Linked DNA regions of Homo sapiens. The protein of the gene in region 1 purifies or fractionates together with the protein of each later gene. This does not show direct contact. Each region holds a gene or a part of one and is shown on either strand. Other genes may lie near its edges.

Region 1 (16,191 bases):
TTTGCTTCAAAATAATCTGGGAGTAGGTGGGTATAGTACAGATGGCATAAGACTGGCAATCAACTGGTACGTGTTAAAGCCAGGTGATGGGTATATAGGGTTTACTGTACTATAGTCTGTCTTCTTAATGTGTGTTTAAAATTTTCCATAATAAAAAATCTTTTAAAAAGAATCACTATGTTTAGAAGTTTGGGGTTTTACCCAGAATAGAGATTCTAATTGTGGGGGGATCTGCCATGTAGTAAGTAACTGTTACCTTGGAGTTAGCCTTCTGCTCCCTCTAGGACAAATAGTTCTTGGTTTATTTAGCGAAAATTTTTTGCATTTTGGGATTCTTAATTCTTTTTGAGATGTTTGGAACAGTCCACTGCATTACTTACCCTGTTGTCAATTATGTCTGTGAAATTTGATATTCTGATTGTGAAAGGATATTTTTGACTAGTACCTTGGAATCACATTTGAATAACAAGTTTTATGATTAAATTTGGTATTAAAAATCCAAGCTTCAGTTATACCGTGTATTATATTATACAACAGTTTCATTCTTAGAAAGCTTCATATACACTTAATTGAACTGAATTAAATTTTAATTGTATTAGGAGAGTTCATTATTTAAGTCAAACTATAGATAATTCTTATATAAAATAGCCCTTTGGTTTATATGCAGATAGGTAAAATTTATGCCAATATACCTGAGCAACTGTTTTATGGTATTCTAACGTTTAACACATGATGGAAGGCAGATACAATTTTGAGGCGGGAAAGCTATTTGTTATATCACTGTCTCTTTATTTCAGAATGAGAGGAAATAGAAAATAGGTAGGAAGGAAGATAAAAGTCATTTAAATATAGTATTTCAAATATTTTTTTGCTGCTATTATATTGGATAACAAAAAACAAATACTGGCTTCATTTCTATTCTCTGGCAAGAGGATGAACAATCATATAAACTCAAACTACAGAAACTTAAAAGTTTTTGTATTTTTCAAGTTTATTCTCAAAATTGCTTAAAAATACAAACTTACAAGAAAAATTACTATGTCTCATTTCTATCATAAACAGAAGGTCTTATCACAGGAAATTTAAAAACCAAACAAGTCATGCCTTTTAGCTTTGATCTCTGTGGTTTGCACTGTGCACCCATTATACTTTCCAGCTATATCTTACCAGATTAGTTTGCCTCTGACAAATACAAAAGTTCCCAAAGATTGATTAGAGTAGAGGTGATAATTGAAGTGTAATACACAAGAAAATGCAAAGTAAAACAAGTATTTTAATGTGTAGGTTTCAGAGAATATAAACAACATTAACTGAAGACAATAAAATACCATATAGTCTACAAAGTAGAAGAGGAGAAAAAGGAGGAAAAAGGGAAGAAGAAACTAGATTCTGAAGCAAAGTTCAGCCAATTTAAGGTATAACTTAATAAAGTATGCTAAACCTAACAGACAGATATAAACCAGTAAGTCCACGTGGTAGCAGCCATAAAGTGAAAACAGGTTTACTGGTTCTAACTCAGGATGTTCTGGGCATCAACAAGGCAGTCTATCAAATTATAGCAATCCCACCTAAAAATGATGAAATTAATTGTATTTACATATCCCAAAAAGGAAAGCTAAGGTTCAGATGTTTCAAATACCCCCAAAAGATCAAGAAATACCTAAAATAAAATTTGACATTATCAATAATATGAGAAACACATGAAGGCATTTTCCATAAGAGTCCACTCACATGTTTCCAGGGGATCCCTTCCCGCTGGTATTCCTCTTGTTCTTGCTTCAGAACCAGCTGAATAAATAGCTGCTGCAGTTTCTCATTGCAGTAATTGATACAGAATTGTTCAAAACTACAAGAAAAGGAATAAATTAAGTTTCAACAAATAGAAAACAGGCAACAAGGTTTTAAGTATCTTTTCCAGTTTACCTGTTGTTGTCAAAGATTTCAAAGCCATAGATATCCAAGACACCAATAACAGTGTTTTTCCCATGGATTGTGGTGTCATAGTTCTTGACCTCAATAATATCATTGATGCGAGTAACGATCCAACAAAAAAGGCGCTCATATATTGCCTGCAAGGAAAATAGCATCATAAATGCTTGCCAATTTGGGAATGAGTCCTCTGTTTGGATTTGTGATCAGTTTTAAATTCCTGTCCACCTTCTCACTGTTTAGCATAGCCATTACTGGCCTCAGCAGAACAAATGAAAATGTAGACTGTCCATTTAAAAAAACCCAAACTACCTGATGTATGCAAAACTAAAGTAAATAGCTTGTATTTTTAAAAGATTATTACCGGTCATTATACCAATTCCAACGACACTCTCCAGGCATGTTTCCCTGCCCGGCTATATCAATAGTTTGCCTGATCCCTTGAATAAGCCAGTTCATTGCTTTATTATTAATTTCATCAACTATAAAGAGTTGAGAGCTAGTGAGTTAATATCTATGATCCACTAAAGCTATATGAATTCTAAAAAATATAAATATTGATTTCTAATGCTAAATGAAGATCTGAGCCAAAGATCAAGGGTTGAAATTCCCTGAGAATCGAACACACATCCAATGCACAAGAACACACACACTAAGCCACACATGGACAAAGGTGCCACACGCTAACACACATTCACATCCCGATACACATGTGCTCTGCAACGTCACATCGTTAGAAAACCTTCCTTAACGTCTCCTGCCAGCTACCCACTCTCTTCACCCATATCCATTACCTCCCCTTTACTCTTCAATCCACTCCAGTCTCCACTTACATCCTATTACTCCATTGAAATGGCTCATCAAAGACTCCCAGCACCTCTACATAGATACTTCTCGTACCTCATATGGACATCTTGCTCTGTCGCTCAGCATCACTCAACCTAGGTTTTCACTGCCTTCTTGGAACACTCTTCTCTCTGGATTTCGGATAATAGCCTTTCTGAATTTTACTCTTTGTTCACTGGATGTTCCTTTTTGGTGACCTTTGGTAGAGTCTCCTCTTCTACCTGACTTGTAAAAGTTGGAGTTCTTCCTGGTCCTCTTCTCTTCACTCTCTAGCACCTTCTAAATCATCTCACCCAGGATTAAATAATACAAATATAATATGACTCCCAAAAGTATTATCCAAATCCAGACTCAGAGAACAGTCTCTGAGCTCCTGACTCAAGAGCTTGACTGTCTACCTGACACTGACTCTTCAATGGCTCACAGCCATCTCAAACTCAAAGGACTCTTGATCTTTCCTCTTCCAACAACTGTTCCTATCCTACTTTTAGCCACAAATAAATAGCACCACTTAGAAATTCACTGATTTATTCAACAAATATTTGCTGAATACTTATTATATATAGTTTGTTAGAGATACAGGTCTAGGCAAACACAAACATAGTCTCAATGTCCAAGAAACTTAGGGAATAGAGTGAAGGAAAAAATTATTCTCTCTGTCTCTCTCACTTGCCCCCCACCTCGCAGATAAACATCCACACTAAAGGAGAGGTACATGGGGTCTTAGGGAAATTTAATCTATGCAGTGCTCAGGAAGGTTAGGGAAGGCCTCTCTGGGAAAGTGATACTTGAGACCAGAAGGATGAGTAAGAGGTAGCCAAGCAAGAGAGGAGAGAAGAGCAGTCCAAGCAGAGGGAACAGATGTGCACAGGCCCTGTGACTGGAAGGAGAAAGGGATCAGGATAATCTGTGAGGACTGAGAGAAGACTAATGTGCTGGGCTGAAGAAAGGGGGGCTGGGTATAGTATAAAATGAGGTGGGAGAGGTGGGCTGGAGCCAGACCATGTTAAAGTATTATTCTTGCTTCTCTCATTCTCCACATAATAGGTCCTATGGATTTTATTTTCTCAACACAGTCCATTTCAAATCATCCTCCTCTCCCCATTTGTACTTTCACTTTTCTGATTCAAGCTGCCCTCATCTCTTTCCTGGATTAACAAAATATCCCCTTAATTGACCTCTTTGCTTCCATTCTTACTCTAGCCCCCATAACATTCTCCATACTAAGGCCAGAGTGATCATTTTAAAAATGCAAACTTGCCAGGTGCAGTGGCTCATGCCTGTAATCCCAACACTCTGGGAAGCTGAGGTGGGCAGATCACCTGAGGTCAGGAGTTTGAGACCAGCCTGGCCAACATGATGAGACCCCATCTCTACTAAAAATACAAAAATTAGCCAGGCATGGTGGCGGGTGCCTGTAATCCTAGCTACTCAGGAGGCTGAGGCAGGAGAATTGCTTGAACCCGGGAGGTGGAGGTTGCAGTGAGCTGAGATCATACCATTGCACTCCAGCCTGGGTGACAGAGAGACACCGTCTCAAAAAAAAAAGAAAAAAAAAAAAAGACAAAAAAACGGCCGGGTGCGGTGGCTCACACCTAATCCCAGCACTTTGGGAGGCCGAGGAGGGTGGATCACAAGGTCAGGAGATGGAGACCATCCTGGCTAACATGGTGAAACCCTGTCTCTACTAAAAATATAAAAAATTAGCTGGGCGTGGTGGCGGTCGCCTGTAGTTCCAGCTACTTGGGAGGCTGAGGCAGGAGAATGGCATGAACCCGGAAGGCAGAGCTTGCAGTGAGCTGAGATTGTGCCACTGCACTCCAGCTTGGGCAACAAAGCGAGACTCCATCTCAAAAAAAAAAAAAGGCAAACTTGATGTCATTGCCCCTCCTTAAAGTCCTCCCTATTGCTCTCCATTGCACTTAGGAAAAATTCAAATTCCCCCAAAACTAAAAACCAAGCCTAAGACTTACAAGAGTAAAAAATGAAATAGACAGTAAACTAATCAACCAGCAAAACAACAACAACGAAAGTTAGACGTGAGAAAATACAACGCTTGCCACACAGATAACAAAGGGTTAAAGTTTATGATATGCTAAGAACACTTAGAAATTGACAATAAAAAGATAACAGCTCCAAAGAAAAATGCACAAAAGATATACCCAGGCAATTCTTAGAATATGTTAAAATACTCTACAAAAATATGATAAGATGCTCAAATATACTAGTAATGAAATAAAAGTAACAATAAAATATTACCATGCAGCCATAAAATCAGTAAATTTAAAGTTTAAAATAAATATATGGCAGGTGCGGTGGCTCACGCCTGTAATCCCAGCACTTTGGGAGGCCAAGGCAGGTAGATCGCTTGAGGTCAGGAGTCCGAGACCAGCCTGGTCAACATGGTGAAACCTTGTCTCTACTAAAAATACAAAAATTAGCTGGGCGTGGTGGCACACTCCTGTAATCCCAGCTACTTGGGAGGCTGAGACAGGAGAATCACTTGAACCCGGGAGGTGGAGGTTGCAGTGAGCCAAGATTGTGCCACTGCACTCCAGCCTGGATGGCAGAGCAAGACTCCGTCTCAAAAAATAAAAATAAAATAAGTATACCCTTTGACCTGGCAAGCTCACTCCTGGGAATCCATCCAGCTGAAACAAAAGCACTAGTATATAAGCATAGATGTATAAAGACGTGCAGCATTGTTTGCAGTTGCAAAAAAGGGAAGTAAAGTGGGTGACTTAAGAGTAAGGTGGTTAAATAAATTGTGGTACTATCACTGCAGGCTTAGTACACAGCCCTGGAGGACATTATGCTAAGTGAAATAAGCCAGGCACAAAAAGACAAATATTGTGTGATCTCACCTATATGCAATCTGAAAAAGTCAAACTCATAGAAGCAGAGAATAGAATGGTGATTACCAGAGGCTAGAGGAGCGGGGTGGATGGAGAAAGTGTGAGACGTTAGTCAAAGGGTAAAGTTTCAGTTAGACAGGAAGAATAATTTGTGGTGATCCACTGCAAAGCGTGGTGACTGTTAATAATAATACTAATAATATTGTTTCAAATTGCTAAGAGTGGATTTTAAATGTTCTCACCACAAATAAATGGTAAGTAGGTGAGGTAAGAGGTATGCTAATTAGTCTGATCTGATCATTCCATAATGTGTACATGTCCTGAAATATCCCACTGTACCCATAAACATATACAATTATTGTCAATTAAAAATAAATAAAACTTAAAAAAAATGGATCAGAGCTCAGTCAGTTGACTCTGGCGAAGCATTATTGAGTGAGAGAAGCAGCACGTGAAGCCCTCATGAGCGCCACCCCCAGTCAGCTTCCACTCTTCTCAGAACCTTTTTTGGCAGTGATGCTTACTTACATCTGGGAGTTTTACCGAGGCTTGTATGGCCAGAAAGTATCATTATGGTTTCTAAAAGCCTTAACCCTCTTTCAAGAATGTCTGAATACATGCTCACAGGATTTCACTCAATTTGCAACTGCGATCAACACCAGGTGACATAGGGTCAGTTACACTCTCACCTTGGCAAAGGCGTCTCTGCCGTAGCTGGCCTCTTGTTCTGTGTGCTGCTTGTCAATGATGTCACGGCCTGTGGCCACAGTCCGGTAAAGAAGGGCTTTCTCAACCATATCTGTCTTAGTAGAGAGCAATTCTGCTATGATAGATACTACTTTGCCATTCTCAATAAGAGGCGTGTCACCATCTACTACAAATTTTAAATTTCCCTGTATCAAAAGTGAAAAAAATAACACATTATGAAACATTATGTCAAGGATATATTTGCCAATATAAAATACAATTCAGGTGACCTTGTTTGTACCTATTTTCCTAAATACATTATACATCTCAACATATAAAAACAGTGTTTCATCTACTTTTTCCCTTTCTCCGGACACTCATCTATCTTTTTGCTTTCAGTGTATGTTTTTGATAGATAAAAGTTTTACATTTTTATGTAATCGAATCTATGAATCTTTTGCCTTAGGGTCTCTCTTTCTTTGGTGTCATACTTAGACCATTCCTACTCCAAAGGGTTTATGAGCATTTGATGCTTTCCTCTAATGCTTTTATAGTTTTTGTTTTCCTTAAACTTTTTATTTTATTTATTTATTTATTTTTGAGACAGAGTCTCGCTCTGTCGCCCAGGCTGGAGTGCAAGTGGTGCGATCTTGGCTCACTGCAAGCTCTGCCTCCTGGGTTCACGCCATTCTCCTGCCTCAGCCTCCTGAAGAGCTGGGACTACAGGTGCCTGACACCACGCCCAGCTAATTTTTTGTATTTTTAGTAGAGACAGGGTTTCACCATGTTAGCTAGGATGGTCTCGACCTCCTGACCTCATGATCCACCCACCTCGGCCTCCCAAAGTGCTGGGATTACAGGCGTGAGCCACCGCGCCTGGCCTTTTTCCTTAAACTTTTTAATCCATCCACAATTGATTTTGGTACATGGTATCAAGTAAGAATCTAACTTTATTTTTCACATGATTAGTTGCTCTAACGGGACTTATTGAACAGTCTAGCTTTTTCTGATTTGAAATGTCACCTTTTTTTTGAGACAGGGTCTGTCACCCAGGCTGGAATGCAGTGGTGCACCATGGCTCACTGCAGCCTCAACGTCCCAGGCTTAAGCGATCCTTCCACCCCCAGCCCCTCTAAATAGCTGGGACTACAGATGCGTGCCACCATGCCTGGCTAATTTTTGTATTTTTTGTATAGATGGGGTTTTGCCATGTTGCCCAGGCTGGTCTTGGAACTCCTGGGTTCAAGCAATCTGTCCACCTCAAACTTTCCAAAGTGCTGGGATTACAGGTGTGAGCAACCCCGCCCAGCTGAAATGTCACCTTTTTAATATGTTAAATCTCCTCAAGTGTTTGAGTCTATTTATATTCCACTCATTCAATAAGCAATACATACTTATAACCATCTACCAAATGTCCAGCACATTAACCAATCAGTTGATTAATCTGTTGATCTGGTGCTGAACTTGTGCAAAGTTATAAAGTACTCTAGCTTTTACTATCATTTTAAGTTTGGTAGAACTAGTCATGTTCCCTCTCCTCCCTTACCCTACCCTATACGACACTTCTTTAATATACTTTATTTGATCTTTTTCCAGGTAAATTCTAGAATCAACAGGTCAAGTTAAAAACAAAATAAAGGCCAGGCACAGTGGCTCACGCCTGTAATCCCAGAACTTTGGGAGGCTGAGATGGGCAGATCACGAGGTCAGGAGATCGAGACTGTCCTGGCTATGGTGAAACCCCGTCTCTACTAAAAATAAAAAAAATTAGCCAGGCGTGGTGGCAGGCGCCTGTAGTCCCAGCTACTCAGGAGGCTGAGGCAGGAGAATGGTATGAACTCGGGAGGTGGAGCTTGCAGTGAGCCTAGATTGCACCACTGCACTCCAGCCTGGGTGACAGAGCGAGATTCCATCTCAAAAAGAAAACAAAACAACAAAAAATAAAATTCTTGTTTGGATTCTGAAAAGGACTGCTGCACTGTATTTAAAAACTGATTCAAACAGATGAGACAATTTATAATACTAAAGTCTTCCTAGTCAGGAACATTTATTGTTTATATTGCTATATAATATTTTTCATAAAGATCCTGCACATTTCTGATTCATTTAGAGTTAAATCTTGCTATATTAAGTGAAAAGTAATTTTTATTCCAGATTTGAATCCATGTTGTCATTCTTATTGTAAGATTATATGTTCAGTGTATTTTAAGTATCTCTAATTATATAAATGTTAATGAAAGAAATCTAACACACAGTTCTTCACTTCTAAGTTTGGTGTGGTATAGTGGGAAACAAGTGGCCCAAAAGTGGTCTATGGTGTTGGCTCTGGGATGAGCTGGCTGTGCCTTTGAGGTAGTCATGCCACCCATCAGGGCTATTTCCCAATCTGTAAAATGAGATGATTAAAAATCCAGTTCCGATAACCTATGATTCTATGTTTCAAATGCCACTAGAAATTTATACCACTAGTAGTCACATCACTGCTGAATTCCTTTATCCTTAAAATTAACCAGTTCAAAGTTTGACAATACCAGTAAGACAATCAACTGAAGTAGTAGTCTCCAACCCTATAGTAGCTTGGAAAATCCCTCATAATATTATAAAATGATGGCAAGAACCACAGACATAGTAATTTCTTCAAAATACGTACAAAATTTTCTCTGAATACTTTTTAAATCTACAGGGAAAAAACAAAATCTTCTGAGAAAGCATCCTGTTCTCAGCAGAAGACAATACATTCTGAGAGGTGTCCCTACTCACCAAGTGCAGAATAGCAGCCAAAATCTTATACACTGTTTGGATCTCCTCAGGTTTGAAGCCAATGACTTTCATGGCATCAGCAACAACTCTGAATTCGGCAGCATCATTGATAGAAGACTGGGGATGAAAATGAAAAACTGAAGTTACAGATATTTCCTATGAGCATTAAAATTCAACAATTATAAAACTAAGTTATACCAAGGTTTTGCCTTCATAGTAAATCACTTGAGGGGATGGTGAGTCTCCAGAGAAAATAAAAATGATTTCACGAGTTGCAACATTATTCAGCACGTACAAAGCCCACTTGTGCGTGAAAGCCATCACCTAAAATAAGCACTGTGCCGTTTTCTGGAACCTTCAGTGAGGGAGCAAGTCCTGAGCTGGCTCAGACAAGCTGATCCCCCACTCCATGATCAGTGAAGGCAACAGCATGGATGTGAGATCACAAATGCAAGTGCTGAATGTGGGAGCCTCCAAGATACATGCTTGGCTACTGTTGTTTGTGGCTCTTTGTTCCACAATTGTCTTATTTAGGCTGGCAACAACACTTCACTCTCGTATAATCAGGCGGTTTATTTTCCAGGTGAGGCAAGGCGGGCCCTCAAAAGCAAAACAGCCAGCCTCAGTCATTTAGTAAGCTATTAAATAGTCTGGGACTATAACTTCATTCTTTCACTCACTTGATACGCATTTCACAAGTCAGCTCTACTAACTGGTACAGGCAGCTCAAAGATGAATCGCCTGCCCTTTTAGAGCTGTGGCCATCACATTGGAAATACAAGTGCGTAAACAGAAATTCGCAATAAAGCAATAGTAACTGCTTATATTAGTTTTACCACAGCAGCAGCCGCAGAGGCTTGACCAATTCTTTCCTCAGTAAGTTTCTCCTCTTGTTTGGATACAGAGACCTGGCCTGATGCTCACTTGTTGAGGAAGGGCCCTGGAAGGGGACCTCTCTGCCTGGTGAGTACAAGTTCCTCTAGTGTCCAGGAGACAACCAGGCCAGCCCCTCCTCCTCCTAGGTTTTTGTTTTTACCTTGGACAAGATACTTAACCTCATTGAACCTCAACTTCCTCACAAATAAAATGGGCATAATAACATATATCTTACAGGGTGGTTGTCAGAATTGAATGAAAATTTATATAAAGCACCTCTCTAGCACCAGCATACAAAAAAAAACCACTCAGCAGTATCAGATATTACTATTATTATAAACTGCAACCATGTTGAAGTTGGAAAGTAACTGGATAAAATCTAAATGTCCTACTGTGGGGAACTGTTGGCTGCTTACCTAACAGCCATCCTCTACCCTCATTTCTTTCTTGCCAATCGAACCCTGATTTGTTTACTCCTCTCTAAGTGTGCATGTCCTTTGTGACTGGCATCTACCTAGCCTCAAGAGGTAAATCTTCACTGGTCTAAACTCATCAGAGTGATCTTATTTCCCTTACTAAATGACTGGTTAGCCACAGGCATGGGATGCCATTCTGATCAATACAACATGAGGGAAAGTGTTTATGGGGGATGAGTGGAGGAGGGTTCTTGGGGAGGTTTCCCTAGCTTATAAAGGACATATGCCATGAACATCTCCTTTGCAGGTGACTCCTGGAAATTCTGATGACATTTTGGGACTAAAAGGAAAACCAGCCTAAGAGGACAGAGCTGTCCATGAGTGTGGCAGAGTTGTAAGTTGGGGAAACAACCAAAAAAACACCTGGGTCCCTGACAACATTGTTAAGGCAATGAACTAACTAATTCTGGAATTGTCCTATCTCAGAGTTTCTTGTTATGCTAGATAATTAAGTTTCTTATTGTTTTTGGAGACTTTTAATTGGGTCTTCTCCTACTTGCAACCCAAAATATCTTAACTGTATATGACTCCTGCATTTTAGAACTGGTTAAGATACACACAGTGCAATACTTAATAGTTATAAAAATTATTATATTAATTTATATTTGTTTGCATGGAAAGATTATAATAAAAACAGGTTTATTTAATTAGGATTTATTGTATGATTCCATTTATAAATATAGATGCAAACCATTATCAATAATCATTTCTGTATGGTAAGATTTAGTGTATTTTTGTTTCCTTTTGGTTCATAGTTTAGGTTTTGACTATGATCATTTATTAGTTCTTTGTTTTCTTAGGAAGCAAAAAAAAAAAGGTGGGGAAAGCAGACATGGAAATTTTTGATAAAAAGGGAATCTAAGCTAAATTTAACCTAGAAAAAAGGCTATTAATTTAATACTTGCTTTCTGTGGGGACTCTACACGACTTGGTCAAAAGTAACTTAGTCGATAAGACAATTTGAAAACAAACATTCCCAGTCACTGGCTTTCCAGGTGTTGATTTCACAATTCTTTAAGTGCCTCTGGCTAGTTCTCAGAGAGGTGGAGTGTTGCCCTCTACTGTTTTTTGTTTTTAATTCATTTTCAGCCAAACATCCTGCTCGCTCTCAGATGACCATAAAAGTAAAGTTGTTGTAACCTAAATGTCAAATAATGGAAAATTAATTGCAAAAACCAAAATATCATTAATTTCTATGCACAGCAATAAAAATACAGCTAAACCAATAATGCAGGTATAATTAGCTTATTTTGATTAATAGAATTTTTTAAAGAAATAGCTCCCATATCTTAGATCTTTTTCCTTTACAGTTTCTTTTATTTCTCCCCCAAATATGAAAGCAGTAAGTTTTTGATGTAGAATTTTTTTAAATAAGGAAAAACAGAACACAAATATCCATAATCTCACCCATCTAGAATAAATAATTAATACTGTGATCTATATCCTACCATATCTTATTATATGCATTTATATACCTTCCCTCCTACGAAATAGGATAATAGTGTAACTATTATCAACAAACTATTATTATAATTAGTTGTAAAATTACTAGATGAACTAGAAATAAAATGAACTAGAAATAAAAGAGCAAAAATACGCCTGCATGTAAGTGTATGCAAGTGCTTGCATGCAAGAAAAGAGAAAAAATGGAAAAACTTGAAAGCTGAATAGGAATGCCTCAAAGGTCACAAAATTATTTCTAGGGTACATCAAAATCAACATTTGAACAAACAGTGAGTGGAGAATCAAAGTGCATTTTAATTTTGTCTTACTAACTTGCCTTTGGCCAAATCATATGGAATCTTCTTAGGAGGTAGGCTTCCTAGTCCTATCAATATTTTTATAGTGTGAAAATAAACGGAATAGGGATAGGATTAAAAATTAAAATAAAACATTGAATGTAGGAAAAAACTTCTTTCCTGTCAGATGGTGATAAAATATCATAATTGATTTTAAGCAAAGTTGTTGATTCAAAAATGTGCTGAATCTCTGTCCTTGAGAATTTAAAAAATAGAACAGGATAAAAGAGATGTTTATTTGCCTAAAGATAGCAGGCTTGACCAGATAATTATTGAATGTCTCTTCTAATCCTTTGACTGATTTTCTATTGGAGCAATCTCAAAGAGGAAATTCTCACCTTTAATTGAGCTCCCACATGAATATAGTTGTAGGATGAAAGGGATTTCTGGAGATGTAGAGAGCGTAGCATTTGTTCTGAACCTCCTTGGAGTAGCTGAAAAATATTTAATTAGAAATAAATTGGCCAGACATACATTGAACCAAACATGAACTTAGTGGTAATCTAGCTTTTATTCATTTTCTGGGCTTAATTCACTTATGTCTTCCTGTTTCTAGCTTTGAAGTTTTGCTTGTTTGTTTTTTTAAACATTCAAGGTAAATGGCTTCAATGTCATCAGTTACAGAGAATGTTATGCAGTCATAAAGAAAATTACTCTGAAAATGTCTCATCTCATTTACAATATAACTGGCATAAAAGTTTCTTGCTTTGAATGCCGTCATTTGTAAAACAGGATCCTATGCTCTGTGGTGGTTGCTTGCTTAGCAGCCTCACTATAGACAGGATATAGTTCTGTCTCAGAATTTAGAAAAAGTCAATATTGCTACGGAAGTAAGAAACATCAGCAGACAGTCATATGCTGAATCACACTGGAAACAAACAGCTTTTCCTCATCAATCTGTACCTCTCAGGAAAAGAGGACAGCTGGGGAACCATGATTGTAGTATTGGATAAAGATAAATTTTAATACTTTCACCCAAGTGGGAAGAACACTGGGAAAAAGTTACAGGTTATTGAAATAAACAGAACTCTTTTATATTTGGTAGAAAAATAGCTTATTTAAAACATGGCAAATTGCCAACAGAACCATAAACACAATATTGACAGTGCTTTTATATAGAGCATGTTTTTGGAAGGTATTAGGTTTAAATTCTCTAAATTAAACTGTATGCTTTTGTTTACTTAAAAAGTCTAATTATCAGATTTTAAAAATTGATTTTTAAACTTAATATACCAGAACTTATATATACAAATGAGTAGTGTCTATTAAAGCAGTTACCTAGAAGAAACTGAATTCGACTGAATTGCATCCAATTGTATTGTCACCGTTCAGTTACTTTCTGTTAACCTTGATTTACATTAATTTGGGCTTTAAAAACTTACAATAATATATCATACTTGTTTTCTAAGTGTAAAGACTTGCCAACAGGAAGGCTATTTAAAAGATTTTGCTTTAAAATCTAAAAGCACTCTTGAAAATAAATACTCAAATTTTTTTCTAAACTTGATGGATTAAAAAGGCAATCCTCCCTAGAAGTTATAAATCCAGATTGTTTTTTTAAAAGTAATCATATTGCTTTTAGTGTGTATGAGTGAAACAAACTGAATTTGTATTCTGATCTCTAGAACTCCCAAATATGGAAACAACAGCTTCAATTCAAAATAAAACAAAAATTAATTTAACATTTAGAATGTACCATTTCAAAAGCTTTCACAGTCATTAAAGTGTTATCTGTACTGCAAGAAAATATGGGGGATGCTCACCCAAGGCAGTCATCTGGTTGGCTAAGCTCCTGCCAGCTGGGTGGAACAGTCATGTTCATCCAATCTCTTAAGCAGGTAGGGCAGGGCATGTGGTGCGTGCGTGCGTGCGTGCATGCGTGACATGTTACGGGGCCAATGGAGATGAGTGATGCATAGGACAGGGGAAAGCCCAAGACACAAATACTCATTTCCTGCACAACTGGGCAAATGATCAATTATCTGTATAATGGATTACTAACCTGATAGAAAGAATGAAAGCTTCTTTCTCCTGGCTGTTGCACAATCACTCGAGACTAAGAAAAAACACATTAAAATGGTTAACCCGAAAATGTGCCCCTAAAATAAAACAGGAGCCACTTTCTTAGGGAACTGTCAGGCCTCTGAGCCCAAGCCTGCACGTATACATCCAGATGGCCTGAAGCAACTGAAGAATCACATAAGAAGTGAAAATGGCAGATTCTTGCCTTAACTAATGACATTTGGTGCCGTGACTTGGATCGGGGGAGCTCCCTTGGGAGATCAATCCCCTGTCCTCCTGCTCTTTGCTCTGTGAGAAAGACTGACTTACGACCTCAAGTCCTCAGACCAACCAGCCCAAGGAACATCTCACCAATTTTAAATCAGGTAAGCGGCCTCTTTTTACTCTCTTCTCCAACCTCTCTTACTATCCCTCAACCTCTTTCTCCTTTCAATTTCGGCGCCACCCTTCAATCTCCCCCTTCCCTTAATTTCAGTTCCTTTCCTTTTCTGGTAGAGACAGAGGAGACGTGTTTTATCTGTGAACACAAAACTTCAGCACCGGTCACGGATTCGGGAAGACAGTCTTCCCTTGGTGTTTAATCACTGCAGGGACGCCTGCCTGATTATTCACCCACACTCCATTGGTGTCTGATCACTGTGGGGACACTTGCCTTGATCCTTCACCTTGGTGGCAAGCACCACTTTCCTGGGTGGCAAGTACCAACCCCACCCCACTCCCTACCCCCACCCCCCGACCCCGGCCCATGTCTCTACCCTCTCTTTTCTCTGGGCTTGCCTCCTCCACTATGGTCAACCTTCCACCCTCCATTCCTCCTTCTTCTCCCTTAGCCTGTGTTCTCAAGAACTTAAAACCTCTTCAACTCACACCTGACCTAAAACCTAAACACCTTATTTTCTTCTGCAATACCACTTGACCCCAATACAAACTCAACAATGGTTCCAAACAGCCAGAAAACAGCACTTTAAATTTCTCCATCCTACAAGGTCTAGACAATTATTGTCGTACAATGGGCAAATGATCTGAGATGCCTGACGTCCAGGCATTCTTTTACACATCGGTCCCTCCCTAGTCTCTGCTCCCAATGCGACTTGTCCCATATCTTTCTTCTTTCTCTCCTGTCTGTTCCTTTAGTCTCCACCCCAAGCTCTGAGTCCTCTGAATCCTCCTTTTCTACAGGACCTCTCCCCTCCTCCCCAGGCTGTGCCTTGCCAGGCTGAGCCAGGTCCCAATTCTTCCTCAGCCTGTGCTCTCCCACCCTATAATCCTTTTATCACCTCCCCTCCTCACACCCGATCTGGCTTACAGTTTCGTTCCATGACTAGCCTTCCCCCACCTGCCCAACAATTTCCTCTTAAAGAGGCGGCTGGAGCTAAAGGCATAGTCAAGGTTAATGCTCCTTTTTCTTTATCCGACCTCTCCCAAATCAGTTAAATATCCTAAAGACCCCCATGGATTGTATACTCATCTAAGAATGAGTCTTCTCTATGGGGTTTCCCCTGCAATTCTTTGATAATTCTTTTTATTGCTTAAAACAGAGGTCCCTAAAACTTTCTGAAGAATGAAGCTATTTTGATTTTTTTAACCTGGAGCCTAAAGATGGAATTTGGTGGTTGGGGGTGGGGTAAGAATTAGAAGTGGGGAGAATAGGAAGGAATGCTTAGGGAGGAATATTCTCAACATTCCTTTCCCCAGGGTCTGCTGGCATTTCAAAGAGCAATGCCTTATATCCTGTAATAAAAGTCAGTTGAGCAAGATCAATCCATAGAGACCTCTGCCTTAGATGGTTCCAAAAATACTGCTGTTAGGAGAGGGTTCAAAATATGAGTTCATTCAAAAGGATCCTTTTGATTGAATATGTATTACACATAAAGTGAACTGATGAAACATTCTGGAAAAAGGACTGATAATAATACCTGGCATTTCCTGTCCTTTTTCAAC
Region 2 (16,191 bases), on another chromosome or scaffold:
ACTTGCCTGAACCACCCGGTACCTCCAGAAGGCATAAGTACTTTGGTCTTCTCTATGTTGAAGGTGAAGAAACTCTGGCCCAGAGGGGTTGAGTAACCTGCTCAGAGTCACACAGCTGCAGTTTGGACCCTCTCAGTACCTCTCTGAAGCAGAAGCCACAGTGCCCTTGTTCTCCAGGGTAGTGGTTTCCCTTGAAGGCCTGGGAGAAGATGATGAGACTCAAAAGTTTGTCAACCTCACGGCTGGAACCCAGCTTCAGGAGGGGAAGGGTCAAGGAAGTAAAAGCACAGGGCGGGCGGCACCCCGGGAATAGCCCCACTCCCAGGTGGGCGCTCTGCACGGGCATCCTGACCAGCAGTGCCCTTCTCCTTTGCAGGACTGAATAACTCAGTAAGAGTTAGGAAGGGGAGTTTGTCCAAGGCCAAGCAGGGAAGCCCAGTTAGACCCCCGATCTCTGGCTTCAGAGCCTGAGTGGACCCTGGGGGCAGCAAGAGTTTGCCAGAGGAGGGGCTTCCTGTGGGGAGGGGACCATTTCTGAGTGGGCCAGGAGGTTGGTGTGTGCTAATGAGGAGAGGAGCTGCTTTAACATGGGCCCTTGAGATTTCCATCTCTGGCAGCAAGAGCTGCCCGTCCCTGGGGAGAGAAAAGTACGAGGGGCAGAGTGGGAATCCCTTTAGTCACAGCAGGCCTGGTGCTGGGGAGGGGCCCAGCCACAGCCACGCAGCGGAGCCCATGTACGTAGCCCCGTGCCACACACTTGACCTCTCCCCTCCTGCCAGGCCCAAAGCCCTGCACTGGCCCTGGCTGTGCCTCCCTTTCCTGCCAGCCAGGCTAGGCCCCAGAAGCAACTCACCAAGACCAGACATGGCCCTGCCAGCACCTGCTTAGTGAGTCCTGACCCTTGAGCCTGGTGTTCGAGGACACCTGGGGGTCTGCCTGCCTCCATTTCTGGCCTTGTCTCCCCAGCTCACAGCCTGGCCTTCAGCCGGACCACACAGCTGCAGGGCCTGGAGGAGCCACACCCCTCCTGGCTGCTGTGCCTAGTGTCCGCCATGCCAGCTAACCTTCCCTCCCGCTCCTCTGAGAACTGCCCAGACTCCACAGACCCATCCTTCCTCCTTACTCCTCTGGACATGACGTGTCTGCACACGCTTTTACGTGGAAGCCCATGAGGCCGGGAGCTTCCGAGGGTGAGGGCAGGCTCTGCAGCCAGGCACCCAGGGTTAGGATTCTGATTTGATCACTTCCCAGCTGTGTGACCTTGGGTAACTTATTTCACCTCTCTGTGCCTCAGCTTCATCTGGTAAAATGAAAATAATGGTACCTGTCTCCACTGTGTTCTGAGAATGAAATAAGATAATCCATGGAAAACTCTGAAAACAGAAACAGCATTTAATACTCTAATTAGCTATTATATTATTTTTATTCCCAGCACCTAGCATAGAGATGGAATAGTTTCTTAGTATGAAATGAAGATTGAGTTACTTTTAACTAATATTTTTAATGCACATATGTAAAAAAAGAAATGTTTTTTTGAGGCGTTCTCTTTCTGTTGCCCAGGCTGGAGTGCCGTGGTGCAATCACAGCTCACTGCAGCTCTCTGGCTAAAGCGATCCTCCCACCTCAGCCTCCTGACTAGCTGGGACTGCAGGCCCACGCAACCATGCCTCATTTTTTCTATTTTTTGTAGAGACAGCCATGTTGCCCAGACTGATCTCAAACTCCTGGGCTCAAGCGATTCCCCTGCCTCAGCCTCCCAGAGTGCTGGGATTATAGGACTGAGCCACTGTGCCCGGCCTATAAATATTTTTAATTAAAGTGCTGACACATCCACACAGGCAGCGAGGAGGAGATTTCTTCTGTTTTAGTTTTCTAGGAATGTTATGTGTAACAGAAAATAATACAGTAGAGTTGCACCACATGTAAATTTGACTTCCAAATTCAACTGTGGGTTCCTGGCAAAGAAACCGAAAAAGAAATCTCTACCTACCAACTAGGCCTTGGCCTCTGTGCATCAGGGAAAGGAGGCTGTAATAGAAATGCAAAGAAAAATGAAAAAAAAAGTTTAAAGTGAATTATGGATGACTTAAGGGGCTTCCAGGAGTAATTCTGGGGGCCTTTTGTGACTCACTGCAAGCTGTGTGATTCTGGGTGGAATCGTTTTCCCGTGGGCATCCTCCCCCAGGCCAATCGGGAGGATCTATCCTGTGGCCTTGCTTCTTAGGTCAGGGTCTGCTTGAGGAGATTTGACAAAGCAAACAAATCAGTCCCAAGCAGAACAGCCGGGCTGTGACACAGCCTTGAGCGGGTGCCACGGGCTGGAGCAGGTGACAGGCCCAGCCTGGCCTGGAGGGAGGGTCAGAGCTGTCTCCAGCTGGCAGAAGAGCCTGGTCAGGGAGGGAAGGAAGGTGGTCGGGGCAGGCGTGCCAGCAGAGACGTCTGGTTCACAGTCACACTGGCCTCCCGAGCATAGTGCCGTAGTGCTCTTGTTCCTAAGAGCAAGAAGGCTGAGTTGTGCCTTGTGAAGGAGATCCGTGCATGCGAGCAGCTTCTTTCAGGCGTGAGTGATAGTGCTGCTGGCCGTGAGCTCAATGCCAATCGATCAGGGATACGTATTAAATAAGGCATCTTTAAACAGAAACATGTAAAACAGTTATGTATCGGTCAGTCGACAAGAGTGTGATTAGAGGCTCCAGGAACCTAACCCTGTGTTCCCCCAGGGTACTGGTTCAGGATTCGCTAACTCAGTGTTCGCGGCCACCTTACAGAATCTGACCACCTGAATAACGAGAATCTGCCATGTCTTGGCTGAGGCTGTCTTCATGCCTGGTGGGTGGGCCTCCTGTCCCACCCCCGGACAGCTGAGAATGATTCAGGGTGTCATTCACTCCTCATCCTTGTGTTCATTCAGTACAGGCAAAACCCCAGAAACAGGTGCTGGGGGTAGGGGAGCCAGGCCAGGCAGAGATCTCCCCTCATCCCTTTGCTCTTCCCCCGGGGCTTCTTCCCCGATTCCTTAATGGGAGCAAACAATTCTTCCAGCCTTTGAAAGTGGCATCGTGCTGCCTTCTCTACGTTTTTGTTTTGTGTGTTGTTTTGTTTTTTGAGACGAGGTCTCACTTTGTCACTCAGGCTGCACTGTAGCCTCCGCCTCCCAGGCTCAAGCAATCCTCCCACCTCAGCATCCTGAGTGGCTGGGACCACAGGTGCATGCCACCACGCCCAGCTAATTTTTTGTATTTTTGGTTTCGCCATGCTGCCCGGGCTGATCTCGAACTCCTGGGCTCAAATGACCCTCCTGCCTCAGCCTCCCAAAGTGCTGGGATTACAGGCATGAGACACGGCGCCCAGATTTTCTCTACATTTTTTTTAATTTCCGTTGGGCCTATGGAGGACAGGGACCCCCTCCCTCCTAGGTGGGGCAGACACAAGGTAAGAAGGTGGCCAGGAGAAACTGAAGAGAGGGACAGTAGCTACTCGCCTGCCCAGCAGGAGCCTCGCTGGCCAGGGGCCTGGAGTCTTGTAGGAAGCTCCGGCTGCTTATCTGTGGATACCTAGATGCTCAGGAAAGAGCTGGACTCATTTATACAAAGTATGACTGTGTCTGATTAATCACCTACATAGCAAAAGCCACATTAAGTTCTTTCAACTTGAGGAAAAGTGTAAGTTAGCAAGCTTGCAGGCACACAGACTATTTCTAGGACACATAGGAGACTTAGTGACTCTCCCTGTTGGCTTCAGGGACAGGTGGAAACATTCTCTCCCACACGACTGTGATTCAGCCTGGACGTTTAATTTTTTGTTTTTTTACCAGGACCATTTATTACTTTGTTATGCACATATCCATCAGCTTAAGAGGGAAAAGCAGCTTGAAGATTCTGGTCACTTAGATTTAGCAAATGAGGTCACCCACTTTCATCTCGCTTCTTTGAATGTGCGTTTAAGGCCTGGGGAATTCATGATTTTTCTTTTACTTTACCAAACCTCTTCTAGGTTCTTCCCGCAAAGAGATCACAAAACACTGGGAATGGCTGGAAAATAACTTGCTCCAGACACTGTCCATCTTCGACAGTGAGGAAGATATCACCACCTTCGTCAAGGGCAAGATACACGTAAGGTTTACCCGCCACTCTCTGTTCTCACCCTTCCCTGGCCAGCAGTGTTCTCGTGTATTATCCTATTTCATCTTCACGATGTAGGGTGCGTCCCCATTTTACAAAGGTGGAGACTGAAGTGTCAGCGCTCCTTCTCTTGGAGTTGAAAGGGGCAGAGGAACTCGTGACCCAGGAAAACCCCTTCTTACCCTGGGTGGGCACTGGAGGCTGCTGAAGCCTAGTGCGGGGCTTCCATTCCTACCCAAGTGCCTTGGAAGGCGTACGCAGATAGACGGTTCTGTTTGCCAGAAGAGATGCTGGAAACAATTGGATATTTTGAGTTGTTTTTTATAATAAAACTAACGTTATTTTAAAAGACACATGCCCTTTACCCAAAAATTCCATTCTTGGCGTTTACCCTACAGTGTATTCATATATGCAGAATATACAGTTTAAAGGGCCAGGTGTGGTGGCCCACACCTATAATCCCAGCACTATGGGAGGCCGAGGTGGGTGGATCATCTGAGGTCAGGAGTTCAAGAGCAGCCTGGCCAACGTGGCAAAACCCCATCTCTACTAAAAATACAAAAATTAGCCAGGCATGGTGGCACGCGCCTGTAATCCCAGCTACTCAAGAGGCTGAGACAGGAGAATTGCTTGAACCCAGGAGGCCGAGGTTGCAGTGAGCTGAGATCGTGCCACTGCACACCAGCCTAGGTGACAGAGTGAGACTCCATCTCAATTAAAAAAAAAAGGCCAGGTGCGGTGGCTCAGGCCTGTAATCCCAGCACTTTGGGAGGCCAAGACAGGCAGATCACGAGGTTAGGAGATCGCGACCATCCTGGCTAACACAGTGAAACCCTGTCTCTACTAAAAATACAAAAAAAATTAGCCGGGCGTGGTGGTGGGCACCTGTAGTTCCAGCTAATCGGGAGGCTGAGGCAGGAGAATGGCATAAACCCGGGAAGCAGAGTTTGCAGTGAGCCAAGATGATGCCACTGCACTCCAGCCCAGGCGACAGAATGAGACTTCGTCTCAAAAAAAAAAAAAAAAAGTAGAGATGGGGTTTTGCCATGTTGGCCAGGCTAGTCTCAAACTCCTGACCTTAAGTGATCCACCCACCTTGGCCTCCCAAAGTTATGGGATTACAGGCATCAGCCACCGCACCTGGCCTGAATGTATATGTCTTTTTCTTTCTGTTAGGTTATTGCCTTAAGTTAGATTCATGGGAGGGCTCTTACCAGGTCAAAGTCGTGTGGTGCAAAGTTGCTTTGGGCAGGCCCATGTGAATTCCTGATACCAGAACTTCCTAAGCCTGGACAGACATTACCAGCTTTCTCAGCTCTTCTCAGTGCACTTTGGGGTTCAAGGTGAGACCTGGTTACCTCTATCTCCAGGAAAACAGGTGGAGAGAGCAGAAGCAAGCCTTTACTCTGGTGAGCAATTGGGCGATGATAATAATAGTAGTTGTGACATTATTCACTGCCTCCTATATGCCAGGCCCAACAAACGCATCAGCAGAACAAACCAAATGACTCATAGGCCAAGGAAGAAATGGAAATTAGAAAATATTTAGAATTGAGGCCAGGTGTGGTGGCTCACACCTGTAATCCCAGCACTCTGGGAGGCCAAGACGGGCGGATCACTTGAGGTCAGGAGATCAAGGCCAGCCATCCTTTGCCAACATGGCAAAACCCTGTCTCTACTAAAAATATTTAAAAAGTAGCTGGGCGTGGTGGCATGGGCCTGTAGTCCCAGCTACTCGGAATGGAAGACTGAGGCAGGAGAATCACTTGGACTTAGGAGGCAGAGGTTGCAGTGAGCTGAGATCACACCACTGCACTCCAGCCTGGGCAACAGAGCGAGACTCCATCTCAAAAAAAAAAAAAAGAAAAGAAAATGATTGAAATACTACTGCATGTCAGGATGTGTGGGATGCAGTGAGAGCAATACACAGAAGGAAATTTAAAGCCTTCAGTCTTACAAAAGAAGGAAGGATGGGCCAGGCGCAGTGGCTTATGCCTGTAATCCCAGCACTTTTGGAGGCCGAGGCGGGCGGATCACGAGGTCAGGAGATCGAGACCATCCTGGCTAACACAGTGAAACCCCATCTCTACTAAAAATACAAAAAAATTAGCCGGGCATGGTGGCGGGGGCCTGTAGTCCCAGCTACTCGGGAGGCTGAGGCAGGAGAATGGCATGAACCTGGGAGGCGGAGGTTGCAGTGAGCCGAGATCATGCCACTGCCCTCCAGCCTGGGCAACAGAGCGAGACTCCGTCTCAAAATACGCTGTGAGGAGCATCTTTAAAAAAGCAAAACTCTAAAGAGAGAGGATGACAAAACAGCCTTAAACCAGTACCTTTAAGAATTTAGACAAAATGGGGCTGGGCGTGGTGTCTCACACCCGTAATCCTAGCACTTTGGGAGGCTAAGGCAGGTGGATCACTTGAGGCCAGGAGTTTAAGACCAGCCTGGCCAACATGGCAAAACCTTGTCTCTACTAAAAATATAAAAAATTAGCTGGGCATGGTGTCGCGCACCTGTAATCCCACCTATTTGGGAGGCTGAGGCACAAGAATTGCTTGAACCCGGGAGGCAGAGGTTGCAGTGAGCCAAGATTGCGCCACAGCATTCCAGCCTGGGCAATAGAGTGAGACCCTGTCTAAAAAAAAAAGAATTTAGACAAAATGGGCACTTTATTAGAATAACATTTATTAATTTCCAGTTGCTTCTGCAACAAATTACCATCAACTTAGTGGCTTAAAAGAACACCAGTTTGGCTAGGCGCGGTGGCTCACACCTGTAATCCCAGCACTTTGGAGAGAGATGTTTAGATCGCAGCTGCGGTAGCACTGGTATAAGAGAAGAAAAACCCTTTTCCTTCTCCCCATTTAGGTTCTTGGCTGGGGCTCTGTTACAAAAGGCAGATTAACAAGACAAAAACAGAAGTTTACTAATGTGTGTATCTCATATATTCATGGGAGAAACTTGGATAGGTGACTCAAAAGTTTAGTTGGAATTGGGTTTACACAGCCTCTTAACACAGGGACAGGCCACTTAAAGAACAATAACAGGACAGACGAAAACAGCTTATGCTTCCAAGGGCAGGAAACTGTGAGAAGATAAATACGTGGGATGAAACCGATGGAGTAAGGTTTGTTTGCAGATGCGTGCGGTGTCATCTCTGGGCTGATAGGAATCTAGAATTGTCTCCAATAAAGGAGAACGTATATCCAGCTTTTAGGCAGAAAGGGGGAGGGAGGGCAGAAAGAGCTTTTCCTGTGTTTGCTGCTACTTAATTGCCTTCAGCTCAAAATACTTCTTATGTCAAAAGGGCATATTTTGGGATGGCATATTGTAGTTTCCTTCCCTGGCTACTCAGAAATAGAAGAAATCAGAACAGATCCCACCTTTCAGTCCTCACCTAGGCTCATGGCTGTCCTCACTGCCCATGGACAGAGGGATCGGGGGTGGCCCAGCCACCAGCACTGACCTTGACTGACTAGTTTATCTTGTAATTGTCTTTCTAGAAAATCAATGTGTACATTTTGAGCTGAGGGCACTGCTGAGGACCTGTTTTACCCCAGGAGGCTTGGGGCTGGCTCTGTGGCCCAGGGGGATGTCTCTGGGCACCCTGAGCCCTGTAACAATGCCAGCAGCATGAGGGAGTATGGACGGGCCCTGAAACTGCAGGTCCTGCCGCTGGTTTGTGTGCAGGGCCAAGAGGCAGGAGCCCCCTGGCATACAGGGGGCCAAGTGCAGGACGTCCTCCAGGATGTGATAAGAGAAGCGCTTTACAGAACAGAGCTGCAGGGTGATCCCATTTGGGCAAATAAAGGGGGAAAGAGGAAAACATACATTTGCTTATGAATCCATTGGTGTTTGCATGTCTGGAAGGAACCAGGAAAGTCACTACAGAGAGCGAGAAAAGATTCCCTTTTCACTGAATACACATTTCTACTGTATGCATTTTTTACCATGTTTATGGATAATGTTTCAACAATTTTACATGAAAATAACTGAAATATTCATTTTAAAAGTGTCAGGCCAGACACAGTGGTTCACACCTGTAATCCCAGCACTTTGGGAGGCTGAGGCGGGCGGATCACTTGAGCCCAGGAGTTTGAGACCAGCCTGGGCAACATGGCAAAACCCCATTTCTACAAAAAGTACAAAATTAGCCAGGTGTGGTGGAGTACACCTATAGTCCCAACTACTTGGGAGGCTGAGGCAGGAGGATGGCTTCAGCTGTTGGGTTGAGGCTACAGTGAGCCGTGGTTGAGCCACTGCACTCCAGCTTGGGTGACAGAGTGAGACCCTGTCTTAATTTTTTTAAAAAGCCTCTGCTCACAACTGGTGATGACAGTAGTTACGGGAGTTGCAGGAACTTTGTCTAGAGAGTCACACAGGCAGCGTCTCTCATCCATGTGCCTTGACTGCAAGCCAGCAAGAGCCACTGACTGTTCCCAGCTGTGCCTGTAGCCCTTAGACCAAGGTCCATGAGTCCTGGGTTCCCTGGGCCTCTCTGCTCCACCCTTTGACCTGTCCGGGACTGTGCAGGGCAAGCCCTTGTCCTCTTGCCTTCCTCCAGGGAATCATCGCAGAAGAGAACAAGAACCTGCAGCCCCAGGGAGACGAGGACCCCGGGAAGTTCAAGGAGGCTGAGCTGAAGATGCGGAAGCAGTTTGGGATGCCTGAGGGCGAGAAGCTGGTGAATTACTACTCCTGCAGCTACTGGAAGGGCCGCGTGCCCCGGCAGGGCTGGCTGTACCTGACGGTCAACCACCTGTGCTTCTACTCCTTCCTGCTGGGGAAGGAAGGTGAGCCCGCCCCTCAGTGTGCCCCAGCCCCCACACCCTCAGCCCCTCCCTGCCTTCGGCCCCCAGATACTCCATCCCCACATGGCCACCAGAGGGGTCTCCCTGAAACCCAAATGCCACCTTAGCGGCCCAAGATGGGACTGTCCGGCCTTGGCCAGGCGTACACCTGCTCCCAGCCGACTTTTACCATGCCCCCCACTCGCTAGTAGGGTTCTCTACATGGTGACTCCGCGTGCCTGCCCTGCCCTCTTCTGCTGAACTGGCGTATTCAGGCACACGTCTGTCCCAAATTCCTGGTGATTCCATGTCATGCAATGCCTTGGGTGCGTGCCACAGCCCTCATCTGCTGCAGGTTCCTCCCTACAGACATCCCGGCCACAGGATGCGAGCCTGATTTCCCAGCAGCTCCAGAAAGAGCCCCAGGGTCTTAGCCATCCCCAAGCCCACCAAGCCCTCCTCCCTCCTTGCCTCCCTCAGCCCACAGCCTCCCTGTGCCCCCTCCTGCCCTTGCCGCTTACCTGTCACGACCAGGTGGCCAGTCACCTCCCGTCAGCAGGGGCTGTGTCCTGTTCTGTGTTGGCCGCGCTGTGCTGTGACTGTTCACACCTCCGTGCGCTCCCACTTGGGGGAGCTGCTGGGTGGGTCTCGGTGGTTCACCTCCGCACGTTCGTTCCTTTCCCCTTCAGCCACTGGTGGGGGAGACACTCACCGTGTGTGGTTGGTCTGGAAGGCAGTGGACACCTCAGTGGCCTGGTCCCTCCACATGGAGGGCGTGACACAGCCCAGACAGGCCTGGGCACACAGGAAGTGCTGCCCCCAGAGAGCAGTTCCCTGGGATGGGTCTGGGGTACAGATGGGCATCAGGAGCCTCGCCCTGCCAGGCCCTAACTTGCGGTGTGTCTATCTCTGTGGGCACAGTGAGCCTCGTGGTGCAGTGGGTGGACATAACGCGTCTGGAGAAGAACGCCACCCTGCTCTTCCCCGAGAGCATCCGTGTGGACACCCGCGACCAGGAGCTCTTCTTCTCCATGTTCCTCAACATCGGCGAGACCTTCAAGCTCATGGAGCAGTTGGCCAACCTGGCCATGCGGCAGCTGCTGGACAGCGAGGGCTTCCTGGAGGACAAGGCCCTGCCTAGGCCCATCCGGCCACACAGGAACATCTCAGCCCTGAAGCGGTGCGTTGCCCTCCAGGGCTGGGGTGGGCTCATGTGAGCCAGGTTCGCTGACCTTGGCTGGGACCTGCCTGGTCCAAGTGTGTAGACCTGGAGAAGGTGTCCACATTCACCCCTCATGGGCTCCCCACTTGGGAAGGAAGCCAGGTAAACAGATCATTGCAGTCCCGTGTGGAGAGGCAGCAGGAGATAGCAGTGATGTCCTGAGGATACCACTAATGGGGAGGAAGCTCTTCACACTTTATTCCTCTTGGCCCTATGATGGGAAGGGGCTCTTACCATCCCTAGGTATCAGACAAGGAAGCTGAGGCACAGAGAGGTTAAGTAACTTGCCTGAAGTCCCTCGGTTAGTGAGCAGTGGAGCCAGGATGTAGCCACCTCAGCCAGGGTGTTCTGACACCCCCAGAAAGGCTTTGGTAAATCTGGGCTCAAGTGCACGGCCTCCGTCCCACCGTGATTGACAGCTCTCCTGTATACCCTGAGACTCCTTGGCCAGAGGCCTCTCACAGCCATGGGACCCCCAGGGGTCCTGAGTTTGACGTGGAAGCAGACCTCTGGGTCTGAAGCCAGCCAAGGAGATGGGCCATGTGTGGGTCTGAGTTCCCTGCTGCCCTGTCCAGGGGACCGATAGGCAGGAACACATCATAGCAGCCAGCCCTCCCGGGCTACTTAACGTTTGGGTTCCTAGGTTGTAGCTTATGGGAAACTCCAGAGGCTGGACAAGATCTCTGAGGTTCCCTGGGTCCCACAGCCAGCCTGACCACAGCCAGATTCACACCCTTGTGTTGAGCGACCTCATTCCAGCCAGGCCATTTCCTGCATTGCACCCACAGACTGTGGTCCAGGCCCAAACTCTGGGGTCCACCTCCAGGACCAGAAAATTGTGCAAGCATGTTGTCCTTGGGATGCAAGTGACAGGTTGGCTTGTTGGACCTTTTGGAAAGAACACGAGCAGAGATGGAACATGACTGCTCCTGGCACTGCCGGTGAGAATGCAGTCAGGCCCTGGTCAGGCCACTGCGGCCCAGGGCAGGCAGGAGGCTCCCTTTGGGGCTGGGAGAGTTTATGTGGACAGAGCCACCAAAGGGGTGAGGGCCTGGGCCAGGCCACTGTCACAGCCATCAGATACACAGGTGTGCATTTCTGTTAGCAGCCGCATGCTTTAGTTTAAGCTCCACACCTCCCTGTGGGGAGCTCCTCACCTAGGTTTCAAGGTGAAACCTGGGGTTAGGCCTGCCCAGGGTGGAAGAGCTGCCCGGGGCCCTCCATCTGAGTGGGATCCAGGGCAGGTGCTCTGGGCTCTGCTTGCCCATCAGTACCGAGGGATGGGTTGCACATTGCCCAGGCCAGCATCTAGGTGTGTCCTTTTCAAAGCAGTCTCAGGACACATTGCTTGCTGGCCACTTCTCCGCTGGTTATGTGACTGTCTCACCTTCTGCCTGCTCACTCAGCATGCATCTTTTATTGAACTCTGAGGTCCCTGAGCATGACTTGCTCAAGGGACCACCCCAGGGATCCTGAATCTGATGTGGAAACAGGCCTGGGGAGGCCCCAAGGCTTCCTTGAGAGTGTGCTGGTCCTGACCTTGTCCCCTTTCCTCCTGTCCTCCTACCTTGTTTCCCCAGAGACCTGGACGCCCGAGCCAAGAATGAGTGCTACCGAGCCACGTTCCGGCTGCCCAGGGATGAGCGGCTAGACGGCCACACAAGCTGCACCCTGTGGACGCCGTTCAACAAGCTGCACATCCCTGGCCAGATGTTCATCTCCAACAACTACATCTGCTTCGCCAGCAAGGAGGAGGACGCTTGCCACCTCATCATACCCCTGAGGGAGGTCAGCATCCCCTAGTTGAGAGGCCAAGGCCTTTCCAGCCCCGAGGTGTCAGTGGGCTCAGGGACCAGCCTGTCCTGCTCTGCCCTGTCTCACTGGGGGGTACCTGGGAGGATGCCCTAGCCCAGGCAGTCACATGTCACTCAGTGATGGGACAGGTGGAGGGTGTAGGACAAGTGAGCCCCTCCACAGGCACCTGCCCTGTTGGGGAGGCAGGTAACATGGTGGGGGCACACTGCTTGCCCTCTCAGGTCACTTGCCTAGTGGAGACAGGGTCTCCCACGCGTGAGTTTCCATCAGGCCTGCCTTCTGGGCCCTGCAGGGCAAAGTGCTGCTCCGTGGCTGCGCTTAGAGGACCGTGTTCCTGCACCGGTCCCATATGTCACTCTCAGAGGCCACCTCACCAGTCCTCTCTGGACATACCACCTTGGCGTGGCTCGGCTCCAGCAGGCCATCAGAGGTCGGCTCTCCCCTGTGGGGCGGCGTCGGCTCTCCCCTGTGAGGCTGCATTGGCTCTCACTTGCTCCTTCTTGGGTTTCTTGGACTTCCACAGTGACCCTGGTGGGAGCAAGGCCATCTGTCCTGCACTGCACCGAAGGGGTGTGGACAGCAAGGACAAGGGCCCTTGCCCAAATAGAAGGCATGAGACTGAGTCAGGACAGGTCCCAAGGCCTCCTTTTCCTTGTGGCCAAGCAGGGCTCTGACTGTTTAATTATAAGAAGAATCAAGTGAGATTCTTAACTTAAAGACCTCCCTGCCATTTGCACAAATCCCTCAAGTTGCAGATGTAGCTGAGAATAGGTGTGGGAGAGTTGCTGCCTCAGTTTCCCCAAGGGAAGTCAGAGGGAAGGAACTCAGAAGAGCCACAGCTCCAAAAGCTCCAGGTTAAGAGGCTCAGGTGTGACCCGAACCCCACATTCTGTTAGCACCAGGGCCCTGTGGATCTGTCCGGGGCACTGTACTGACCTGTCCCCCAGGCCTAGGGGTCTTCCTGACACCTGAGGCTCCGTTTGGATTTCTCCTGCCGGGCCCTTGACATCTCAGATGGTAGAGAGCCCTGGCGGAGCTCGGGGAGCAGGACTAGCTCACACTGGAGGACTGAGTGTGCTCTGGTGATGGAACTCTGCAGCTGGTCAGGGTGGGGGCCGCCTGCCCAGCCAGCGCTGACCCCTCAACACACCTGCTCCTCCACGTTCCAGCCTGCAGGCTTTTGCGCACGCAGCTCACTCTGCTGTGGGTGTAGTGGACTCTTGAATTTCACTCCCAACCACCCGCTTCCATGCTTCCCTCGGGAAGTGACCCCTCTTCCACCCTTTGCCCAGGTAAAAGCCACGTATCGGCCTAGATTCCGACCTCTCCCTCCTCCCTACAGCATGTCTTGCCAGCTCACCCCGCAGAGCTCAGCCCTTCCTCTCCACGGACACCACCTAAGACACCATCATCTGCTTTAGCCACTCCCTAACCACACTGAACCCCAACCCCCGCCTTTTTTTTTTTTTTTTTTTTTTTTGAGACAGGGTCTCACTCTTGCCTGGGCAGGAGTGCAGTGGTGTGATCATGGCTCACTACAGCCTCCATCTCCCGGACTTAAGTGATTCTCCCACCTCAACTTCCCGAGTAGCTGGGACAGCAGATGCTTGCCACCACACCTAGCTGTTTTTTTTAAATTTTTAACAGAGACAGGGATTCATCATGTTGCCCAGGCTGGTCTCAAACTTCAGGATTCAAGTGATCCTCCCTCAGCCGTCCAAAGTGCTGGGATTACAGGCCTGAGCCGCCACACCCGGCCTAACACACTTAGCCCCTTTATGGCGTATCCTCCCACAGCAACCAGCAAAATTCGAAATGTCAGTGGGAGCATGTTGGCACCCTGCTTAGAGTCCTCTAGAGTCTTCTCCCACCTGCCTCCTATGACCTGTGAGACCTTCTGTGCGCCTCTCCCACCTGCCTCCTGTGACCTGTGAGGCCTTCTGTGCGCCTCTCCCCCTCTCAGACCTGCGCCCAGGCACACCCCATGGATATGTTCACACACAGACATAAAAAGTGCACACTCAGACTGGGCGCGGTGGCTCACGCCTGTAATCCCAGCACTTTGGGAGGCTGAGGCGGGTGGGTCACGAGGTCAGGAGATCGAGACCATCCTGGCTAACATGGTGAAACCCGTCTCTACTAAAAATACAAAAAATTAGCCGGGCGTGGTGGTGGGCACCTGTGGTCCCAGCTACTTGGGAGGCTGAGGCAGGAGAATGGCGTGAACCCGGGAGGCAGAGCTTGCAGTGAGCTGAGATCGCACCACTGCACTCCAGCCTGGGCGACAGCGAGACTCCGTCTCAAAAAAAAAAAAAGTGCACACTCACCTCCACCACTGCCCAGCTCACACTGTCCTGGCTTCTCTGGCCTTCTCTTCCTCCCTCAGGCAGTCCTACTCCCCTCTGCAGGGTGACTGCTGTGCCCCCACCCATCTCTTCCCCAGCACTCACCTGGCTGGACCAGGTCTCAGCTCAGTGGCCGCCTCCCCTGGGACCACCCAGCCTTCCCTCTTCCCAGCACTCACCCCTGCTGACTGTGCTCAGCTGGTGCATCCCTCGTCCGTCTCCCTGCCAGGCCTTGGGCTCTGCAGAGGTGCCCACTGAAAGCTTGTCCTGTGCCCTCTACACCTCAGAGGGGTTCAGAGCCAAGCTCCAGGACCCCTGCTGTCAAAAAGTGTTCCCTGGGAACAAGTGCAGGGAACAGTCCTGCAAGCAAGGGACTGCTTGCCCTGCTTTCGGACAGCCTTCTGAGAGCCAGTGAAGGCCAGCAGCTGGGCTGAACACTACATCATCCTCAGAACCACCCTGCACAGCCGGTGTGCTCCCCGCCATCGACAGGAAAAACGGGCCCTTAGAGGCACAGGCAACTTGCTCGGGGTTAGGTGCAGCGGGTGGCAGAGTCAGAATGTGAGGACAGTTGGGCCACTCACTGCATTGTGCCCAGGAGAGGACAGCTGCATGACAGTCTGCCATTCACAAAGCATGCCCAGCTGCAGGGCCTGAGATGCAGACACCCAAAAGAGTTCTTTCACCTTCTCAGGTGACCATTGTCGAAAAAGCTGACAGCTCCAGCGTGCTGCCCAGCCCCCTGTCCATCAGCACCAAAAGCAAAATGACATTCCTGTTTGCCAACCTGAAAGACCGTGATTTCTTGGTGCAGAGGATCTCTGACTTCCTCCAGAAAACACCATCCAAGCAGCCAGGCAGTATCGGGAGCAGGAAAGCCAGTGTTGTGGACCCTAGCACAGAGGTGAGAAGCCCCTTGGGAGCAGCAGGGTCGAGTTGGGCCCAGGAAGAGCCAGGGCATCCATCAGCCTCCCCGCTGGAGCCTGACCCCATGGTTCCGGCTGTGGGCCTCCGCCTAGGGGTGGATGTGTCAGAGCTGGCAAGAGACCCCTAGCCCAGACCCACACTGCCCAGCAACATCACAGCCTCTCTGCACCCCCAGCCACACACCCGGTACTCCTCACTCCTGCTGGGCCCATTGCCCATGAGGAACCTTCTCTGGCTGTCCTTTCTGCATTGCTGCTGCACTCAGAGCAAAGCCACACTGTGGAGGCCTGTACACTTCGGCTTTGTTCCCATGACCTTCCCTGCCAGGCGTTCAGGCTGAAGTTCTTGACGGTAGAACTGCAGTATCACTATTGTACCAGCAAACTTAACAAGAATTCCTTAATATCACCAAATATTGTATTCACACTTCCCCGTGTGCAAGTGTACTTTTCACGGTTTGATTATTTGAACTGAGGCAGACGAAAGTCACACATGTCACTCTTGGTTGATAGGTCTCTTAAATCTGTTTAATCTACGGGCTTCTGCTCCACCTAGCTCTCGTTTATTCTTCCACAATATTTTTTTGAAGGAATCGGTCACTTGTGCCATAGAGTCTCTCATCGTCTGGTTTTGCTGATTGCATCCGCTGCAGGCGTTTAGCAAGCTCCTGTGTCTCTTGTTTAAGTTGGTTGAGCGGTGAGACCGAGAGCCGTGATCACATTCAGGCTCAGCTGATTTTGGTTCTGGCAGGTCCGCCTGTGGGCAGGCTTGAGGTGCTGTTTATTCCCAACAAGAGATGTCTGGCAACCAGCCACCTCTCTATGCTACTGTCAGTCATTGAGAATATGCCTGGATCCAGCGGCCAGTGGCCAGCGGCATGCTCATTCCATTCCTCCTTTCGTCTGGGAGCTGAAATTCTCCCAAAGAGGGAAGCTGACCCCAGGCACAGTTCATAGAGGAAAGGTGGAAT

The links.
Region 2: the proteins of MYO1D (region 1) and TBC1D9B purify together in Homo sapiens (affinity purification with mass spectrometry; 3 studies listed by BioGRID and IntAct, with this or other methods). This does not show direct contact.

The regions. Positions count from the first base shown.
Region 1 is NC_000017.11:32,758,559-32,774,749, forward strand, and holds part of MYO1D (unconventional myosin-Id), read right to left. Parts: intron 14,285-16,191; coding exon 14,231-14,284; intron 12,663-14,230; coding exon 12,567-12,662; intron 9,195-12,566; coding exon 9,078-9,194; intron 6,524-9,077; coding exon 6,320-6,523; intron 2,070-6,319; coding exon 1,924-2,069; intron 1,847-1,923; coding exon 1,732-1,846; intron 1,569-1,731; coding exon of another isoform or gene 1,554-1,568; exon of another isoform or gene 1,254-1,553; intron 1-1,253. UniProt on the Homo sapiens protein: Unconventional myosin that functions as actin-based motor protein with ATPase activity. Plays a role in endosomal protein trafficking, and especially in the transfer of cargo proteins from early to recycling endosomes.
Region 2 is NC_000005.10:179,887,110-179,903,300, reverse strand, and holds part of TBC1D9B (TBC1 domain family member 9B), read left to right. Parts: intron 1-3,993; coding exon 3,994-4,112; intron 4,113-8,686; coding exon 8,687-8,915; intron 8,916-9,833; coding exon 9,834-10,092; intron 10,093-11,714; coding exon 11,715-11,922; intron 11,923-14,988; coding exon 14,989-15,198; intron 15,199-16,191. UniProt on the Homo sapiens protein: May act as a GTPase-activating protein for Rab family protein(s).